2 separate regions of the Homo sapiens genome follow, and region 2 is linked to region 1. Evidence: fine-mapped expression QTL. A gene starts in region 1. The other region holds a variant in brackets. All regions are shown on one strand. Distances are between the middles of the regions. Region 1 holds the start of OR2L13 (olfactory receptor family 2 subfamily L member 13). Region 2 overlaps OR2AJ1 (olfactory receptor family 2 subfamily AJ member 1).

Region 1 (2,927 bases):
ACGTATAGGACAACTATAAAGAGAATTCACAGTTCTGTGTGTTCAGCACATAGTAGGTCCTTAGTAATTGTCACTGTCCTTTGCCCATTCCCTGTGTTAACCATGGAGAGCCCTCACGCCCTGAGAAAATGTTTTTATTAATGTCACATTGTTTGAGAGCTGCACATAGTGCAACTCTAACAAGTTCATGTTACCTTTTTTTACATTTTTAGTTCACTCTTGGTTTTCATTTTTTTTTTTTTTGAGACAGAGTCTCACTGTGTCGCCCAGGCTGGAGTGCAGTGGCCTGATCTTGGCTCACTGCAAGCTCCGCCTCCCGGGTTCACGCCCTTCTCCTGCCTCAGCCTCCCCAGTAGCTGGGACTACAGGCGCCCACCACCACGCCCGGCTAATTTTTATTTTTGTATTTTCAGTAGAGACCGGGTTTCACTGTGTTAGCCAGGATGGTCTCGATCTCCTGACCTCGTGATCTGCCCACCTCGGCCTCCCAAAGTGCTGGGATTACAGGCATGAGCCACCTGGGTGCCCAGCCTTCTTTTTCAATTTGTTATGGAACTGTCTATTCCCTGTGCAGCAGAGAGTTTCCTGATGATAGGAAAACATTTCCAAAAAAGCTTTCTAGGATAAAGCCGACCCAAATCAACTCAATTCAGTTATATTACTATGACTCACTTTGCCCGAAGTTCTTCAGTTTATATAGTGGTATAAAAAGCAGTTTTATGGCCAGGCGCAGTGGCTCAGGTCTGTAAGCCCAGCACTTTGGGAGGCCAAGGCGGGCGGATCACGAGGTCAGGAGTTCGGGACCAGCCTGACCAATATGGTGACACCCCATCTCTACTAAAAACACAAAAATTAGCCAGGCGTGGTGGCATGCGCCTGTGATCCCATCCACTCGGGAGGCTGAGGCAGAAGAATCACTTGAACCTGGGAGGCAGAAGTTGCAGTGAGCTGAGATCGTGACCCTGCACTCCAGCCTGGGTGACATAGTGAGACTCCATCTCAAAAAAAAAAAAAAAAAGCAGCAGCTTTACAGTGACATCATAATCTGCAAACATTCCATATAATTATTTAAAACATGTAAGCATCAAACTATGTTCTGATAGTATATCAGGCTATCAATAACATTATATCACTGATCAATAGGCTCTGCATTAAACCAAAACTCTTTCTGAAGTGAGAATCTCTTCTTTATCTGCCAAAATTCATGAGGAAGAAACACCAGGTAACACTTTATAATATTCATTCCTTACAGCTCCCACAGCTAGTCATTGTCTTTATGGTGAAATCAGAAAACAACTTCACCAGCTCTTGTGAAATATTATCCTGTTTGCATATGCAGTGTTTAGATAAAGTCTCTTCCTTTCCTCTTACCTTGTTTCAGTGAGAACAGAATAAGGCATTTTACACTGAAGTCTCTCAGGTTCCACCATTGGAAGACAGAAGGATGAATGGCTATATTTTACACACAGAACCTTAAGTCACCAACCCTTAGATATTCCTCTTTCTCCTCTAATTGATCTCCAGTGTCCAAGTCCACGGGGGCCAAAACCTTGGTCACTTCACTTGACTTTGCTGATTTGGGGATGAACTCAAATTCTGAACTTAAAGCAAATCAACCAACCCAATCAACTTTGCTGCATTCAGCTGCTACCCAGAATCAGACTAAAGAGGGGTGTATTTAATATTCCAGTACATGATTTCAGAGCTATAGAAGATGTTAAATTATGTTTATGGAAATTCTGTCATCATGTAAGTTAGAGAATTCCGGATTAAAAAAGTGCAGGAACCACTTACAAGTACTCGACTCAGTAATAGCAGAACTAGTCCCAAGGATAGTTTCCTGTCCACTCTTTAGTGAGTTTCCAGGGGGAATGATTGATGATTGTGACTAAATTAAATTATACTAGGATAAAACACTTCCTTCTACTTGTTAGGTGGGGGTAGATAATTGATACATGACAATATATATCCATTTAGCTATTCTACTAAAGTGAAAGCTGACTCTTAGAGACAATGTGATAAAATGAGCATTTAGAGTCAGAGAGAATACTCTAGTCTGACAGCTATGCCACTAATTAGGAAGCTGAGTTGGGAAAATTACTTAAGATTTCAGCCTGTTACTAATCTTTACAACTGGACTAATTTGAGGGACATTCTAATAATTAAATAGAATGATGTATGCCAAATGTTTACATAGTGTCTGTTGCAGAGGAAGGGCTCAATCAACTGTAGCATCTCTTAACCTCTTTAATCCATACATTGGTTAACTAGAAAAGAACACTTTATTTGGGGTTATATTGTTCTTTTTTTATCTTTGAAGGCACTAACTGCTATATTTTATGTCAGAAATTAGAAATAATGCTATAAAATTAATATCCATGTTCTTTGTTTTTTTCCTTTAATTTTTTAGAATTATTATGATTATCTAATGGTTGCATATATTCATGAGGTACATGTGATGTTTCAATACAGGCATTCAATGTGTAATGAGCAAATAAGGGTATTTGGGGTACCTATTACCTCAAGCATTTATTAATTTTTTCTGTTAGAAATGTTCCAATTCCACTTTTAGTTATTTTGAAATATACAATAAATTATTGTTAACTATAGTCATCCTGTTGTGCTACTACATTCTAAGTCTTATTCATCCTAACTGTATTTTTGAGCCCATTAATCATCTCCAGTTTATTCCCCACTCTACTCTACTCTGCCGAGCCTCTGGTAACAGTCATTCTACTATATTTATTATTTTTTAATTTTAGCTCCCACATATGAGCAAGAATGCTCAAAGTTTGTCTTTCTGTGCCTGGCTTATTTCATGTAATATAATGGATAATGAAAATTTACTAGATACATAGAACACTATTCAACCATAAAAAAAAATAAGAGTGAATTCCTTTCATTTGCAACAACATGGATGGAACCGG
Region 2 (2,927 bases), 160 kb after region 1:
TGAAGAGTGACATGCTCCAAGACTCTCTGGAGCACGTGCAGCTGTTTGACCTGATGCGGAGGGTGGTAAAATTGGACGCTGCCCAGCACATCACTCTGGCTGAGACTCTTCTGCACCCCGTCTTTGCTGGCCTGGCAACCTCAGTCGTGGTCCTTCCACACAAGCCACAACCCAAGCAGATGACAGACGCAGGACACTGCATGAGGAGAGCGGAACTGGGCTGCCCAATCCCCATTCTCCAGCCCCTACCACCAGGTCCCAGGACCAGAACCACACAATGAGCAGTGCAATGTGAAGGAAGGCAGGAGCCTGCGGGGGAGCAGACTTGGTGCCCAGCTGCCAGAAGGCAGATTTGACTCAAGCTGTTCATACGTGTTTTTTGTTTTTGTTTTTGTTTTGTTTTTTGTTTGTTTTTTTGAGATGGAGTCTAGCTCTGTGGCCCAGGCTGGAGTGCGGTGGCGCCATCTTGGCTCACTGCAAGCTCCGCCTCCCGGGTTCCCGCCATTCTCCTGCCTCAGCCTCCCGAGTAGCTGGGACTACAGGCGCCCGCCACCACGCCCGGCTAATTTTTTTGTATTTTTAGTAGAGACGGGGTTTCACCGTGTTAGTCAGGATGGTCTCGATCTGCTGACCTCGTGATCCGCCCACCTAGGCCTCCGAAAGTGTTGGGATTACAGGCGTGATCCACCGCGCCTGGCCCATACATTTTAAACTTACAAAGTGTGTCTTAGTGTTTGTAAAAAAAAAAAAAAAAAAAAGGAAAAAAATTAAATGAATTCTCAATAGAAATATTTATTATCTTCTTTGAAATAACTATTAGGATAAATTGCTAGAAGAGTTTGTAAAACATCATCCTGTATGTATAAATGAAATAAGGCAATTTTTATGATATTCCTATCTAATATTGTATAGTTGCTTCTAGCATAGGATGAGTAATTCAATTTTAACACAACTTATATCTGTATATATGTGTGTACATATATATGTGTGTGTGCATATATATGTGTATCTGTAAAATTTTACTAAATAAAGGTGTTGA[T/C]AAACCAGGCAAAGAATAATGATTTCATATGGAATTTGTGAATTTTTGATAAGTGATTGTTAGCAATATAATTTAACAAAGTTTTATAAAAATAAACATGGATTTGTCTTTTATACAATGGATGTGTGACTGTATTTTTAGGGATATTCTCATAAGTCTTACAATTTTGGTGTTAGGGAATAGGACGCCTTGGGTAACTTCTACTTCCTGTAACTGTTGCATGATTATAATTGGTACCACAGAAGGAACACTACATTTTTAGAGGTACGTGTTTACAACACAAACACATATTATTGTTTATTATTAACAATGTTTCTGAAATATTCACTTCTTATATGTGGTAAGATAGAAGCTTTGATTTCTTTCTAGGAAACCTCTCATGAGTATCCTTCAGGCATTTAACATAGAAATAGACAGAACACACATTCAGGAATTTTCCTATTCATTTTTTTGTGCAGAAAGTTACTTTTGAGCATATTTTTCATCACCGCCAGAACATCTTTATTCCTAAAGCTGTAGATGAAAGGGTTGAGTGTGGGTGTGAGGATCGTATAGAATATTGCCAGGAACTTATCCTGGCCTGGAGTGTGGTATGATTTAGGTCTCATATATGTAAAAATAAATGGCCCATAGTACATCGTGACCACAATCATGTGGAAGGAACAAGTGGAAAATGACTTTTTCCTTGCCTCTGATGATTTCATCTGGAGGACAGTAAGAATAATTTGGCCATAAGAAGCAGAGATCAAGGAGAAAGGGATCAGCAGGAAGATCACAGCACTTACACAAACCCCTCGTTCATAGCGTGTTGTGTCTGCACAGGACAACTTCAACATGGCAGGGACTTCACAGAAGAAGTGATCAATTGCCCTAGAGCCACAGAAGGGAAACTGCAGTGCATAAGCTGTGTGGACTGTGGAGTTGAAAACCCCAATGAGCCAGGAGCCTCCAGCCATGAGAGCGCTGGCATACTCCTTCATAAGAATCGGATAGCGCAGCGGGTGACAGATAGCCACATAGCGATCACAGGACATTGCAGCCAGGAGAAGGCACTCACCACCCAGGAGGGTGAGGGACAGAAATACCTGGAACCCACAACCTGCAAATGAAATAGTTCTGCTGCCTGACAGAAAGTTAGTGACCATTTTGGGAACGATGTTGGAAACATGCAAGATATCCATTAAGGAGAGATGGCTGAGCAGAAAATACATTGGAGTGTGGAGTCGGGAGTCACTGCGAATGAGGAGGATCATGAGCGTATTTTCTGTTACACTCATAATGAAAATGACAAATAAAACTAAGAAGAAGACCACACTTGTTGGGGAAGAAGAGAACAATCCCAAAAGTATGAAATCACTGCTGAAAGTGTGATTCTGATGGCCCATCATGAATTCTCTATTTTTTAACCTAAAAAGAAATAATGAATTAATAATAAAGAAAAAATATTAGTGTAAATCTTAATCTAACAATAATATACCTGCATAATAAAATGAGAGTTAGTGATGCATGTTTTGTAATCAACATCAAAATACTCTTAGCCAGTTTTTGGAGTGGGCATGTTTTACAAGCTGGGCATTTCTTTCTTCAAATAATCGATGATATTCAGTATATTGAGTGGGCCCTTGGCTCCATCTTGAGTCTCATAATCTTAATTAATTCCACATAATTTACTCAAATCTACTCTTTTCTCAAATGTCACTTTCCCAAGGAGGCCTATCCTTGCACACCCTTTAAAAAATTGTAGGGCTCCCACTTAAACCCTAATTTCCTGGTCCTCCTTGCTCTGCTCCATTTTCACATGTTTGCATGTCACTTTTCACCTTCTAGTACATTAAATAATAAACACACTGGTTATATTTACTGTTTATTTTCATTCTATGCCAGAATT

The links. PIP is the estimated chance that this variant, and not a neighbour inherited with it, causes the effect.
Region 2: its variant is the best candidate, but not a certain one, in a credible set for the expression of OR2L13 in prefrontal cortex (BrainSeq, PIP 0.88).

What each region holds. Positions count from the first base shown.
Region 1 is chr1:248,093,699-248,096,625 of GRCh38, reverse strand. OR2L13 (olfactory receptor family 2 subfamily L member 13) reads right to left here and starts at 1,442. Exons shown (of 3, transcript NM_001395936.1): 1 at 1,372-1,442. LOC105373275 (a long non-coding RNA gene) reads left to right here and starts at 1,084. Exons shown (of 4, transcript XR_949369.3): 1 at 1,084-1,222.
Region 2 is chr1:247,933,266-247,936,192 of GRCh38, reverse strand. OR2AJ1 (olfactory receptor family 2 subfamily AJ member 1) reads right to left here. Exons shown (of 2, transcript NM_001355235.2): 2 at 854-2,446. The coding sequence starts at 2,424. The coding sequence ends at 1,438. It also overlaps the pseudogene CLK3P2. Among named protein-coding and RNA genes, the nearest start is that of OR2AJ1, 9.8 kb to the right of the region's middle. The variant T/C (reference allele first, on the strand shown) is at 1,040.